2 linked regions of the Homo sapiens genome follow. The protein of the gene in region 1 interacts with the protein of each later gene in a biochemical or structural test. Each region holds a gene or a part of one and is shown on either strand. Other genes may lie near its edges.

Region 1 (7,979 bases):
CATTCTTGTACTTTGTCAGAGATAGACAGAGTTTGGTTTCAGCCACTGATACATTCAGCAAAATAAATCCTCTATCTTCTTAACCTAAGAGATAGATTCAGATTACACTTTCCAGACTGTGAGAGAAGTTTCTGCTTCTGTTCTCAACACCAGGTTGAGAACAGAACCTGGTGCAACAGCAGGGAATACAAACATCTTAAAGTTAACAAAGCACCACAAATATAGCTGATAAGACAGGTTTATAACAAAGCTGAATCATTACTGACTCAGGTAAGACCTGCTTTGAGTGCAACTCCATCATGCCCACAATTATTGATGTAACATTTTCCATACAGAGATCCTGCTAGAAAGTTATATCAAGCAAGGGCAGTGGCAAAAGTCTAAGCATCAACTCTTCATTACTTAAATCTCTGGGTACAAAGTAAATATTCACATCTGATCAAGATTCATGCTCATCCTTACAGTGAAATCAACCTTAGTGTTGCAAATGACATTTCATTCTACATATGAAATCTGATTTTCCAATTAGAATGAGGAGGGGTGGGGTACGTGTGATAGAGTATAGATGACTGATCTGTATGGTATATACAGTAAAGATGTCATAAAACTGAGATGGCCGTGGGTAAGCATGTGTGCTGCATAGCCAGATCGCAATGGTTTGGAATCCTGGCCCAATCACTTATTAACTACATAACCTTAGCCAAGTTTATTCGCCTGGCTAAGGACTGGTTTTTGCAAAATGTGAATAATAACACCTAATCCTATAAAGTGAGATTATTACTCTCTACTTCATAATAATAATAAGGGCTAAATAAGATATACACAAAACTTAATTCAGTACTGATACACAGTAAGAACTGAATAAATGATAGCTATGATTGTTATTATGATTATTATTTTTATCATCCCTATGCGGCCTAGTTATCGGCAAAGAATTAACTTCTTTGTAACTTTGTAATGTATTTGTGAAAGCCATGACCAAAAGTATAGAGGACATTAACTTCTTGTGAGGCTTCCATGGCCTAAACTCTGTCCAATAAACATGGTCTTGATGATCTATCATTACTGTGAAACAAAATTCCTTAAACTGTAGAAAGTTTCAGTGAGGCACCAATAAATACAGCCATAGAGAAATCTCTCCCTTCCCCTATACACACACACACACCATCTACCCCTTGGGGATATATTAAAACTAAGACAACTGAAATAGCCTTAGCCAGTAATTAAGACATGCAGCTAATCAGAGAGCAGCGCAGGCTGTGGCCCTCTACAAAGAAACGAAGAAACAAAACATTAGGATGATAGCTCTCATTACCAGGGCTTTGTTCTCCTGGAGCAAAAAGAGCACAAAAGCATAAAGTTGGAGAACTGTAATTGCATTTTGAACATTTGCGGGGGGAAAAATTACAGGGTTGTCTGAACCGGGAGGATGTTCCACTAGATAACTGCGTCAGTCCACACCCACCAGCGCCCTTCCCCACCCTCAAAGCATGACTCCACTTTTTCTAACACTGCCCTTAAGGAATCTAGCTTTTGTGACTTCCAGTAATTGAACAAATCAACCATGATGAAGCAGCTGAAGAGCACTTTAAACAAAAGAGACAAGAATTAAGCAAACAGAAAACTCATTACAATGCTGCCTTTTGCTTTTTTTTACTCCTAGAAATTCATGTTACCAAACAAGTCTTTCTTCATTGCTCTTCTTCAGAAATAATACTTTAAGAAAATTCTAAAAGGCACTAAGTGATTTTATCCAGATTTATAATCTAGCTACAAGACATACTTTCCCTTCCCCCATCACCATCTAGCACTCTTCCCTGTCACCTTAGAGCTTTCGACTTAGATGTGTTCACACCCAGCAGTCCCAGCAGAGCTTTCTGCTCACATTATATGACATAAAAAAGCAGGCAATGAACAATTCATGCTTCTAAGTGCTTGCGATAAAGCCAGGCTGAGCTGACCTCTCCCATCCTATACAGCTGCATGTCAGAAACATAAGCTTAAAGGACTGAGAGTAGCAAGCATGTGCGTGATGTGGTATAAACAAACAAATTAAAACCTGAGGCCTTTCCTCTGGCTGGTGCCTAATGGGACTAGCATACTTAACTCTGTGCAAAAAAAAAAAAAAAAAAAAAAAAAAAAAATCACTCCAAGCTAGCTAAAGGTATTGCTTTTCCTGCTTTCCATGATATATCTCTTTAGCCCCAATAAACAGACTAAAAGAAGAGGAATTCAATGGTTGCCATTCTTTCGTGTAAGACTTTTTGAGTAAAAACTATCAATTTGGCAGCATTAAGCCACAAGACCACTCCCTGATTCTAAGTGGACATATTGATCAATTGAACTGACATGTGCCTCCTCCTTTCTCTCCCCTAGTAGCAATCAGCTGTACCAGGGAAATCCATTTCATTTCCCAAAACAAAAGGCAACATTCTGCTCCTTATCTGACACTGTCAGACTAATTTTTTAGAAAATAATAATAATAATAAAGATGCCTAAAAACAGAGCTAGGAGTTGAAATGAAAATGATACGTGTTTAGAGTTTTGGAATTGAGTTGAGGTTATGACTGAGTCCAGAGGTCTGTAATCCCTACAACCACTGAGGACCCTGATATTTATTCATCATACCCAGATTTTTGTTAAAGTTAAGCAAGGGATGGCAACACCACTGCCACTTCAGAGGCTCTCCCAGGGTTACCCTTCACTGCAACTGCCGCAGAGAGGAGACTTGTTCCTTTCTCAGTTACAAGTCAGCCTGCAAACAACTCCAGCTATTTCAGAGACTAGCTAGAGATGGAAAAATATGTGGCAGTCTTTCAACTAACTCTGAAGGACATGGGTTGAAGAACTACCATATAGATCAAAAGGCTCAAATAATTTCATTTGGTTTAGGTTTTTATGCTTTTAATAAATTCTGTCTTGAATATGCAAGAGATCCCCTTTCACATCAGGGTTATGTCAAATGCTTATTCAGCATTTGTTCCTTGCCATGAAGAAACTGAAACCCAACCGAGGTAAATAATGAATTTCATACTGCAAATCACTGAATATTTCATAATTCACAAGAGCAAAGAGGGGGCCAATTAGCTCTGCCTCCCAAAAAGAAATCTATATTTTTACAATGCTTAAATACTGTTAACTACTCATTTTAAAGCTTATCTGGGGTTTTGCAATTGAAAAATCATCTTATGTTTATGAAAAATTCTGTAAGAACACTTAAAAATAACAGACAGAGCTGGAGCAAGAATAATTCTACATATTTTAATTCCTATATGACTCTTACAGGCCTTTGTCTTAACCCGGCAGCCTGAAAAACGATTTAGGTAAAACAGCCCTTCTTTCCCCAGTCCATTTTAAGCAGAGACAACATCCCCCAATCTCCGCCTTAGCAGACACCGACTAACCAACAAAACAGCCGTGCAATTAAGGCCCAGACATTTAACACTCACCATCTCCTGATCCCACCGTCTTCTTTTGATGTTTACAGCACATCTGTAGGATGCAATACTAGGAGATGCCTTGTTTGACCTGCTGCATGATGCTGTGACATCAGTTCAGATGATGCAGCTCATTATGGGAAAGACTGCTGTTGCTATGGCAACTGGGATGTGCTAGGAATCCTTGCTGCATTTCCAGTGGAGCCTGAGACAATACGGAAGCCCTGTAAGAAACAGACGATATGCAAAATTTAGACCAAAGGAAGAGGATTCCTCATTGGACTAAAATCCATAGGTTTAAAAGGGATTTCCCTGAAAGCATTTTGGAAAAAACAAAAATTATCTCCCCCTTTGTTGTTATACATTTAGAAAAAAAAGGTGGGAGGAGAAAATAGAATTAGTACTAAGCAAATAAAAACTGAAATGTACAATGTTTCCTTATTAGACAATTTGATCACTTTTTCCTCCCTGGTCAGCACTGGGATAGCTTTTTAAAAGTTATTAAAAAGAATTTTTGCTCATCTGTCAAAGACCAAAAGAACAAAACAGCGAGCACAAAAATAATTAAAAATGGAATATAAACAGCTGACCAAATGACTCTAACTCTCAAGTAAACAAGTTTTAATTCTCAAAACATGGGCAAACCCTTGGCCAATGAAGTCTGTCCTGGTTATTTTCCCTGATGAACACCAACCCACAGAACCTTCCCATGCAGAATAAACCCAGCTTTCACCTGGTCATCAGATAGGCAGCAAAGGGAAGTTTGGAATCTAGAGGGGCACAACACACCACCCTCAACTTCTACTGACCCTTCCTTTGGCCTGCAGGGAACCCCTCCTTCTCATGGCCAAAACGCATGTGAGTCTTTTCTGGGATCAAACCTAGTGGTTGGAACAAGTAGCAGACCTGCTAGAAACTTCCTAAATCGTTGGCATTCCAAACATTGGGGTCTGTTTTCTTCTTTTCTGAACAATAAAACTGCCTACCACACAGATTATTTGTGCCCCTCCCCAACCCCAAAAGCTGGAACTGTGTGAAAAGCCACATTTAAACAAGACACGGTAAGGCATTTCTCCAGTTGGTAAAAGAAAAGCAAATCTAAAGCAATCACTTCTTTCCAGTCCTGAGCAGAAATCAACGTCATGTGGTGAGAACTGGGGAGAAGGAGATATGGACAGAGCAGCCTATGTTTTGCATATTTAATATTTGCAGGCCATTGATAGAGAAAAGCAGAATCAAGTTGACCTGTATCCACTCCGTCTTCACAACTCTGAAAAAGAACAACATTCCAAAAGCTTAAAACATGAGACAATTATGTTGTCTCCTCCTGCTTGAGATTTTAAAATGGCACTGTTAACCACCAGCATAGGCGGTGTGGGATGAGTGGCAGAAGGAATTCAGGCAGTGTCTCTGTAAACAGGAGCTAATAAAATGCCTGAGAAGTGCCAATATCCCAGCAGCGTGCACCATCAGCCTCGCACAGAGCAACCCTGCCCTAGATGGGAAGACAGACTTGTTCTTGCTTCATCTAGAGAGGAATTAAGAGACCAAAAGCAGGAGGTGAATCTGCCTGCTTAGGTCCTTTGTGGCATCAGCAGAGCCTGACTCCCTCCCTTTATCTTAGACCTCAGACCACATGCCACACACAAGGGGAGAAGTAGCAGGCAGCTACCCCAGTACAAAGAGTACAGATCTGAGAGTCAGGAAACCCAACTGTAAATGTCAGGTCCTCCTAGAGCATCTGTGTGATATCAGGCCAATTGATTAACTTCTTGGGGCCTCAAGTTTTTCATCTGCAGAGATGATTGATTTAGCTAATAACCATAGTTTTCAGGTTTTTCATTAGTAATATAACCTTTCTTTTAATGATACAGATCAAAGCTGGACTGCCTTGGTTGAGGCAAGATAAGAAGCCCAGAGCCCAGACTGATGAGCCATTCTCAACCACTGCCTCCAACCTCATTTGCTGTAAGCTGACTCTTTAAGATACCTCTGAAGAACCCTTCAGTCTCTGGAGAAGATAAAGAGACATGGACCTATTACAGAACAAGATTAGTCTTTCCAGAGCTGAAATCCACATGCTATAAAGAGGAGAGGACAGGGTGGGAGCAGGTGTTCCAGATTTGAATATGGCTTCTCAAGATGGTAAGAATCTTGTTAATCTTTTTTGCCAGAAGCAAGTCAATCATTTGATGGGAAGAAATGGATGGCTCATCAAACCTGAGGCCAGGTCAAACTTTTAGCAACCTGGACTAGCTAAATTGCTTGCCCACAAAATGGCACTCACCAATGAAACGGAAGTAGAAGTGGAAACCATCAACTCCAAAGGTGGCTAAGACCAAGTGTCTCTTCTTCATGTTTTCCTGTCCTGCTAGCTGGATGCAAAGAATCCAGTGGAACTCTGAAGCCCAGAAAGATAATGGCCACACATTGTGGATGGAGCCTGGGTCCCTGAATGACTGCATGGAGCTCAACCATCCTCTCCCAACTACCTATTGACCTACACTGGGCTGCAATGAGTGAGAAACAAACACCACCAAGATTTTGGGGTAGTTTATTCTGAACAAATTATCCATTTATAGATAAAATTATAATTTAATAAAATATAAATTTTCTAACAAGATTATATTATATATCATTATTTATGATAAAGTGACAGTGTTAAAAACATGTTCCTTTATTGCAGACTTTCTTTTTTTATTTTATATTACTTTAAGTCCTGGGATACATGTGCAGAACATGCAGGTTTGTTACATAGGTATACATGTGCCATGGTGGTTTGCTGCACCTATCAACCCATCATCTAGGCTGTAAGCCCTGCATGAATTCGCTATTTGTCCTAATGCTCTCCCTCACCTTGCCCACAACCCCCCGAAGGGCCCTGGTGTATGGTGTTCCCCTCCCTGTGTCCATGTGGTCTCATTGTTCAAATCCCATTTATGAGTGATAACATGCAGTGTTTGATTTCCTGTTCCTGTGTTAGTCTGATGAGAATGATGGCTTCCAGCTTCATTCTTTTTTATGGCTGCATAGTATTCCATGGTGTACATGTGCAACATTTTCTTTATCCAGACTATCATCGATGGGCATTTGGGTTGGTTCCAAGTCTTTGCTATTGTAAATAGTGCTGCAATAAACATACATGTGCATGTGTCTTTATAGTAGAATGATTTATAATCCTTTGGGTATATACCCAGTAATGGGATTGCTAGGTCAAATACTATTTCTGGTTCTAGATCCTTGAGGAATCGCCACACTGTCTTCCACAATGGTTGAACTAATCTACACTCCCCAAAACAATGTAAAAGCGTTCCTATTTCTCCACAGGCTCTCCAGCATGTGTTGTTTCCTGACTTTTTAATAATTGCCATTCTAACTGGCGTGAGGTGGTATCTCATTGTGGTTTTGATTTGCACTTCTCTAATGACCAGTGATGATGAGCTTTTCTTTCATATGTTTTTTGGCCACATAAATGTCTTCTTTTGAGAAGTGTCTGTTCATATCCTTTGCCCACTTTTTGATGAGGTTGTTTTATTCTTGTAAATTTGTTTAAGTCCCTTATAGATTCTGGATATTAGACCTTTGTCAGATGGGTAGACTGCAAACATTTTCTCCCATTCTGTAGGTTGCCTGTTCACTCTGATGATAGTTTCTTTTGCTGTGCAGAAGCTCTTTAGTTTGATTAGATCCCATTTATCAATTTTGGCTTTCGTTGCAATTGCTTTTGGTGCTTTAATCAGTAAGTCTTTGCCCATGCCTGTGTCCTGAATGGTATTGCCTAGGTTTTCTTCTAGGGTTTTCATGGTTTTAAGTCTTTAATTCATCTTGAATTCATTTTTGTATAAGGTATAAGAAAGGGGTCCGGTTTCTGTTTTCTGCATGTAGCTAGCCAGTTTTCCCATCAGCATTTATTAAATAGGTTGCAGATTTTCTAAGAGTTTTCAATCTGCTAATATGCATTGAGACTCTCCTGTAGAAATATAGTATGCAGTATTTTCCTAATTTATATTTAATCACAGAATCCTTTTTTCATAGACTAATGTTCCATTGGGTGTCCATCTGCAACATAGTAAATATGACTGTAAACAGCAATGAGCTAGAACACCACTAAACCTCCAATTCAGCCTGCGGCTGCAGAAGAAGGAAAAAATAAAACTTCTCTCACCTTCAGCACAACTCAGTCTGCCTCCAATCTTTCTCTGCCATCCTGAACTGACAAGACAGAAATCTGGTAGTATCATTTGCAGACAGCAACATTTATAGAAATGTTTCCTCCTGGTCATTTTTTTCCTATTTGTAAGTAGGCATTGGCTATAGTTTGAGTGTTCCCTCCAAAATTCATGGGTTTGGTTTTCTGGGTTTGGTTTTGTTTGTTTGTTTGTTTATTTGTTTGTTTAAGAGGAGGCATCTCAATATGCTGCCCAGACTGGATTCAAACTCCTGAGCTCAATGAATCCTCCTGCCTCAGCTTCCCAAGTAGCTGGAACTATAGGCTCATGTTGAAACTTAATTGCCCTTGTGATGATACTTAAGAGGTGGAGC
Region 2 (7,840 bases), on another chromosome or scaffold:
TCACAAATGTTAGATCTTTTGTTATATTCATCTTCATCTTTTCTTCAGATGGGGTAGTTGATATCACCCTCTCTTCAGTTCACTGATTGTTCCTTCTTCTCCCTTCATTCTGCTTTTAAGCCTATTCATTGAGTTTTAAAATTTCAGTGATTATATTTTTCAGATTTAAAATTTCCATTTGGTTCTTTGCCATATATTTTGTTTCTCTGCCGTTGAGGCTTTCTATTTCTTTTCCATTTTGAAGGAATTACAGGGCGATTGCTTTCAAAACTTCATCAGATAATTTTAACATCTTTGTTATCTCAGTGTTGGTGCTTATTGATTGGTTTTTTCATTCAAGTTTTCCTTGGTTCTTCACACACATGATTTTTAATTGAAATCTCAACATTTTGAGGATTATGCTAGGAGCTCTGGGTCTTATTTTTAACTCTGTTTCACCTGGTTTCCTCTGACCCCATCCAGCAGGAGAAGGGCTTAGGGTATCTTATTGCTGCCAGGTGGGAGGCGAAGTCCATTTTCCCACTCAGCCTTCTTGGACATCTGGAGGAGGGAAGGGACCCTGTTACTGTTGGGCAGTGGTAAAAAGTTCTGGTTCCTCATTAGACCTGTACTGATGTGAACCTTGCTAGAAAGGTAAGAGTGTCTTGCTACTTCTCCTTCCATAACCTCTACTGATACTTTGGAAGAAATGGGCCTTGTTACTACTCAGCGGGGATAAAGTCCCAGCTCTGTCCTCTACTGGGACACCTTGTTACAGCCTGGTGAGAGTGGAAGTCAAGGTTCCCCACTCAGCCTGTGCCCAGTGTGGGTGGGGAACAGTTTTTTCTGTGGTTTTTGGCTTCAGTAGTGCAGTTATTATCTAACACATTTCTGTCTTGCTAAGCTGCCCCTTCCCTGATCCTTTATCTAGAAAGAGGAGGCTTTTGTTGCAGCTTTTCTTGTCTATGCCCATTGGTGTTTCCTGGTTGTCGTCTTCTTTAGCTTCAAATCTGGGATAGATGAGGCAAAAAGAAAATCCAGGGAACTCACCACCATGTTGTTCCTTGGGTCCTGAGTTCTGTAGCCAACCTCTCTTCTTCTCTCTATCTTTCAGAGCCTTCTTATGTTGTCTTCTTTGTAATGTCCAGGGTTTTAGTTGTACTTAAAAGGAAGAATCGGGAAAAGCACATGTACTCCATCTTTCCAGAAGCAGAAGTTTCCCAACAGTAGTTTAACAGAGTTAATCTGGAAGAGGCTGGACCTGTTCTCTGCTCAATAAATGCTGTTTATAACAATTAAGAAAATTCCACATCCCTTTCCTCAAAGAAATTACATTCTGGTGAGAAAAAAAAAAATTCTGTAATTAGTCCCTATAAACACTTTCATTCTGAGCTACCCTGGATAGAGAAGAAAATGGTAAGGGTAAGAAATCAAAAAAGACATCTGTGAATTACATTGTTTAACACCATCCCTACGCCAGTAACTTCCCACACTCTGAGGCCCACTCTGAGGTAGATTCCAGAAAATTTACATCCCCCAACTAGCCCATTCTCTGATATAGGCAGGTTCCCTTTGTTCTGTTGTACCCTCAGGAGACCTGACTTTGGGGGTAAGCAATGAAAGGAAGAAACCACAAGCAGGTAATCAGTCTTCCGGCAAGCAAGGTGGAAGAGACATGTGTTTCTTCTATGGTAGGCACAAATGGAAAGCCTCTAGCATCGAGTCCTAGGAATCAAAAATTCCTATGAGTGGAAGATGATGAAGACCCATTTGTGGTTGAAATTTGCTCCTATTTGAAGAACTTCAGACTCTGGCATATCTTGGCCTTCTCAAAGAGTCGGTGATATACCTGATATCTTCTAATAAGTCCCTCTTTTGTGTAAACTAACCAAAGAAATTCTTTTGGTGAAACTAAGAATACTAACTAAATCAACTTGAAGACTTTAAACAGAACAAGGAAAACAAGACGTGTGAGTTATATAATTTTGCAAGGCAGAGATCCTGAATGACTAAAAGCCAACATAAATACGAAGAATTTTCATTTCATTTCTGTACCTGTTCTTGAGGTGGTGATCTAAATTCCTTTGTCTTCCTGGCTGTGAGTGCAGCTGACATGTTTAAGGCTTGCATGACTTCGTTGTATCGGAAACGTTGATTGTCTTGGAGCTTAGCCACAAAATCATCTGAAAAGGCTACAATGGCTTCTATCCGGTGCCGGACCTGGCAGTCACAGAGGTACTGAAGCAGTAGGCACATCTAAGAGACCATTAAAAAGACACCAAATTTAATTTCTAAATCCTTTAATAATGTGTATGAAATCATAATCTGTGGTAAACATCCTTAGTTGCCTACTCTTCTCTCTTAGAAACAGAATCCTGATTTTGTATAGGCAGCAATGTGCTCGGTCCCAGGAGATGAAACATAATTTGTATAAGCAAAAATGGCAAACAAATGTCCCTTTAGTGGATGTTAACTGATATGGTCTGGTTCTTTCCCCATGAAATCTCACCTTGAATTGTAATAACCCCCACATGTCAAGGGCGGGGCTGGGTGGAGATAACTGAATCATGAGGGTGTCTTCCCCCATGCTGTTCTCGTGGTAGTGAATAAGTCTCACAAGATCTGATGGTTTTATAAATGGAAGTTCCCCTGCACATGCCCTCTTGCCTGCCACCATGTAAGATGTGACTTTGCTCCTCATTTGCCTTTCGCCAGGATTGTGAGGCCTCCCCAGCCATGTGGAACTGTGAGTCCATTAAACCTTTTCCCTTTATAAATTACTCAGTCTCAGGTATGTCTTTATTAGCAGTGTGAGAACGAACTAATACACTTACCCTCCCAGCCTCCCTTTCAGCCACAGGTGCAATGGCCAATGAAATATATAAGGGAAAGTTTGCTAAGGGTCTTCTGGGAAAGTTATTCCATCAGTGATAAGAGACTAGAGTTCCCTTCTTTCAAAATGAGTGTAACTGGGTGATGACATGATTACTGCAGAAAGAATAAGGTGAGCATTTTAGGAAGAAAACCACAGGCTGAGGATCACAGAGCAGAAAAATATTAAGATCTGGGTTATGGATGAGATCATTGAACTGCTGTACCAATTCTAGAAATCTAAACTTAAGACAATTAAGTGGTGAATGCTCATTCATTCAGTGATTAGCTGGGTCTTTCTCCTACTGAAAACCAAAAGGATTTATAACTGAGTGAGTATGTTGGTAGAAACATTTCTAAGAGAGAATGCTCTGCCAAATTTTTAAAAAAATCTATACACTCAATACCAATTGTGATATAAATACATGACAGTGTCAAAGAGGACCTTAAAACCCTCTGTGTCACCATCTACAATATAACCATTTCTATCAGTGCTGTCTCTGAAGTAGTCACAGTGTCCAACCCCTTTTCTCCATCTCCTTTGCCCCACCCTCCTCTGAGCATGGTCTCCTAGAGTTTGGACCAGCAAGAAAGCCTCCTGACTAACCAGACACTAGATCACACTCTCTTTCCTCCCTTATCGATTTTCCTACCAGCAGCCACACTGGCCTTTTCCTGCCTCAGGACCTTTGCTGGGCTATTTGTTTTGCATGGAAAGCTCCTAGAACACCCTGCCTTGTTCCTTTTTCTTGTAACTGCTGAGCACAACTCTTAAATCTGAACTCAGCTTAAAAGTCAAAATCTCTGAGGGGTCTTCTCCCTCATCTTTCTAACAGTAATCCAGTCTAAATGTTCTTTCTTTTAGTAATCCATTCTTTGCCTTCAGAGTATTTAATGCAATTAGCAATAAGATTTTTTAATGCATAAATGAGTGTATATTTCCTTAGAGGCTGTGAGATTCTGAAAGGCAGGGTTCACTTGTGTTTCCCCTAAGTGCATACCCAGAGTAAGGCTTCAGTCAACGCTGACTAAAGGAACGAGGAGCAAAAAAGCAGGTCAGCGATGCAAACATCCAATTGACTTTAATAAACAGAGGAGACATTAATAAAGGACCCTTTAGACATCTTGAGGAGCATAAAGACAGCCAGTGTGTCTGATTCCTTAAAAACATACTAAGGTGGCTGGGTGCAGTGGCTTACACTTGTAATCCTAGCATTTTGGGAGCATGAGGAGTGAGGAACACTTGAGTCCAGGAGTTTGACACCAGCATGGGCAATAGAGCGAGACCTCATTTCGACTAAAAATAAAAAAAAATTAACTGGGCATGGTGGCATACCTACAGTCCCAGCTGCTGTAGAAGCTGAGGTGGGAGGATGGCTTGAGCCCAGGAGTTCTAGGCTGCAGTGAGCTATGATTGCACCACCACTGCACTCCAGCCTGGGTGACTGAGTGAGACCCTGTCTCAAAAGAACAAAACAAAAGCATACTAGGGGAAAGTAAAACCTTGCTATGTGACAATGGGTGCATCTACTGGTAAACAAGTATTCTAAGGTTGGTAAGAGTGGAAATATGGGTGGAAAGGGGTATTTGATGGCTTGTATTTCAGGTATTCCAATGTAATGAAGGTAAAAAGCATCTGGGAAACAAGAGGAGATGGCTAATGAATAAGAGGGAAAAGAATAGGAAGTTAGTTAATTTTATGAAGAACTACCATTACACAGGAATGCAAAGAAATAAACACACACACAGAGAAAGAAACAAAGGCATGTTCTAATACCTTAATGCTTAGCAATTCTGAAATTCACTCAAGTCTCTTGTTCTGATTACCTGCAATTTAACTGGCTCTGGCAGTTTCATTTGGAGCAGGCCTTCCTTGGGCCGCTTGCCCCCCTTGGCTTCTTCCTCACCAGCTCCTTGCAGCTTTGCATCGTCCACACTGAGCTCTTTCTCCAGCGTGTCACTCTCCTCCTCCGGAGTGGCAGCTTCTTTAAACACACTGGGCTCAATCAACTGCAAGATGTGCTTCAAGTCCTCGTTGTGAAAGATGCCCATGATCAGCAGGGTATAGAAAAGCTTGATGAGAGGTACAAAGAGGAATTCAGTAGTCCCTCCAACTGGGTCCCGGGCATGAAGACTGCCCTCTTTAACAGCTTCTGTCAGCATCTGTATGGTTTTGGACTTGAGGATGTCCAGTGGGAACTCTGGACTGTACTGGTAACATTCATTACTAATGCTTACAAAACTGGGGGAGGAAAACTGCATCCGTGGCCTGAGGGAGGTGCTGAGGCCGATCCCTGGAAGGCCGTGTTTTTTGTTCTCATCAGGGAACAGGGTGATGCTCTTCGTCTCCTCCGTCATGGGGACAATGTACTCGTTGTTCATCATGAGCCTGGCAGTGGCATAGGAGCTCAGGTGGATGTCAATCAGCAGGTCATAGTAGCCAGCACGCAGCAAACCAGGCATGTACTTGTTCTCAATGGCATAGAGGAGCTGAGGTTCATCCACATGGCTGCACAGGGCATGGGCCACCCGGTGGTTCCCAAGAGCACAGACGGCTGAGTAGAGCCGGAGAGTGTGATAGTGAAATTTCAGCAATTCCTCCTGCTCTGTCAACTCTAAGATGTCAACAGATCTGTAGAAGGGAGGAGAGTGGTAGTAAGATTAGAAATGAATGATTTTTTAAAATCTGAATCAGAGGAGAAATCAGTATGCACTGTAAATTTGAAGGAAAAAAGTTATGGGAATAGACACTGCAGGTTGAACATCCCTAATCTGAAATGCTTGGGACCAGAATTGTTTGGATTTGGGACTTTATTCAGACTTTGAAATGTTTGCATTATACTTACCGGTTGAGCATCCTGAATCTGAAAGTCTGAAATGTGAAATACCCCATTTCCTTTGAGCATTATGTTGGTGCTCAAAATGTTTCCGATTTTGGAGCATTTCGAATTTCAGATTTTTGGATTTGGGACACCCAACCTGTGTCTTCTTTTAATTTTCTATGACATGTTTAATGGCTGCATAGTACTTTTAATCATTTCTAGATGTTCTACAAATTTTCTTCTACATAGAATTTGACATTCATCTAGCACCTCCTTCCTCCTCCATTGTATCAAGGATCTGTGGCAATGAGCCGAGATCGCGCCACTGTACTCCAGACTGGGCAATGGTGAGACTCCACCTCAAAACAATAGATAAATAAAGAAACAACAACAAAAAAGTCTCTAGTGGAGAAATTTCTTTCATATGTCATTGTCATTCAATTGTTCATCAAATATCACTGAGTGCCTATTATGTATTAGCACTGCGCACTGATGATACAATGGTGAATAATATAGACATGATTCCTGCCCCCAGGGAGCTTATATTCAATTGAGGGAGTAAACCACCCCCGCTGACCAAAATGGAGTAAATTAAATTATAAACTGTGACATGTGTTAAGGAGAAACAAAGTACACACTGACATAAATCTACCACCATTGCACACTTTAAAATATTAATGATTTGTCATGTTATTGGGGCATCAGATTCTTCTCAACCATGCTAGTTAAGACTTCCTTTTTTGGAATTTGGATTTTGAAACTCATCATATTTTTCTTTGGCTGCTAGGAAGAATGAAATTAATGTGGGCCCCAACTCTACCAATCGGTGTGGTATAAATGACTGTGTGTCACTCTTAGCCTCAGTTTTATTTTCCTATCCATATATTTTCTATGGCCTGATGCCAGTGACACATTTTTATACATTCATGTTCCATATCATTTGGAAAACTGCCTCAAATCCTTTATGATCTTTAGTGAGAGTTTACATTATCCATTCACATACATACACATCTATCACAGGCAATTAATATAAACTACTGAGACAAGGTGTTATGTTGGTTTTCGATGATAGCATGCCAAAATGTTAAATTATAATGTTAAAATTCCATGCTCAGTAGAGACACAACGTTTTCCTTCATAAACAAGAATTCCTTCCCAAATGTTGTGTTTGTTTTGGTTGTTCGGTATTTTCTTAAAAAACATCATCAGATGAAAAATTATGATAAAACTCTTCTCACAAAAAAAAAGAATACAAAATTAAAATCAAACTGAACCATCTCAAGAGTACATTATGAAAGATATCTAATTACCTCATGTAAAAAATGTAAATACATATGTAATACATAAAAAGAATTAACTAGCCAGATTAATTTTTCTTTGATTTTCTTTTGTTTTAAAATATCTTTGTTGAACTGTAATTTACATGCTATACAATTTACCTACTTAAAATACATAATTTAATAGTTTATGTATATTAATGGAGTTGTGTAACTATAACTATAAGTTGAGTTTAGAACACTTTTATCATCCCAAAAGGAATTTAGTACCCATTAGCAGTCCTGTTCCGCTCCTAGCCCTAGGTAACTACTAATCTACTTTTCGTTTCTAAAGATTTGTCTATTATGGACTTTTCAATTAAATAAAATCCCACACTAGTAGGATTCTTTCACTTAATATACTTCCGTGACTGGTTTCTTTCACTTAATATAATGTCTTCAAAGTTCTTGCATTTTGTAGCATATATCAGTACTTCAATCATTTTTATTGCCAAATAATATTATATGGATATATCACATTTTGTTTATTGACTCATAAGCTGGTGAACATTTGGGGTTCCCTTTCTTTTACTATTGTTCATAATGCTTCTATGAATATTCATGTACAAGTTTTTGTGTGGACATATTTTAATTTCTCTTGGGTATATACGAGGAGTAGAATTGCTAGATCACATGTTAACGCTATAATTTTATTTTTTGAGGAACTGACAAACTGTTTTCCAAAGCATAGGTTAAATTTTAAAGATATTAAAATAAAAAATGCCAAGAACATCTAAAGATATAAAAATGGACCTGGCTTCAATAATTATTTTCAGATTAAAGACTTAAAACATACAAATATGTTTGTGCATTACTTTCATGACTTGTTTTTACTCAGTTTGTGATTCAACA

Evidence for each region.
Region 2: the proteins of AKAP6 (region 1) and RYR2 form a complex in vitro, tested with the Homo sapiens proteins (one study listed by BioGRID).

The regions. Positions count from the first base shown.
Region 1 is NC_000014.9:32,324,879-32,332,857, reverse strand, and holds the start of AKAP6 (A-kinase anchor protein 6), read right to left. Parts: upstream 3,561-7,979; 5' UTR 3,450-3,560; intron 1-3,449. UniProt on the Homo sapiens protein: Binds to type II regulatory subunits of protein kinase A and anchors/targets them to the nuclear membrane or sarcoplasmic reticulum. May act as an adapter for assembling multiprotein complexes.
Region 2 is NC_000001.11:237,611,681-237,619,520, reverse strand, and holds part of RYR2 (ryanodine receptor 2), read right to left. Parts: intron 5,483-7,840; coding exon 4,678-5,482; intron 2,236-4,677; coding exon 2,035-2,235; intron 1-2,034. UniProt on the Homo sapiens protein: Cytosolic calcium-activated calcium channel that mediates the release of Ca(2+) from the sarcoplasmic reticulum into the cytosol and thereby plays a key role in triggering cardiac muscle contraction. Aberrant channel activation can lead to cardiac arrhythmia.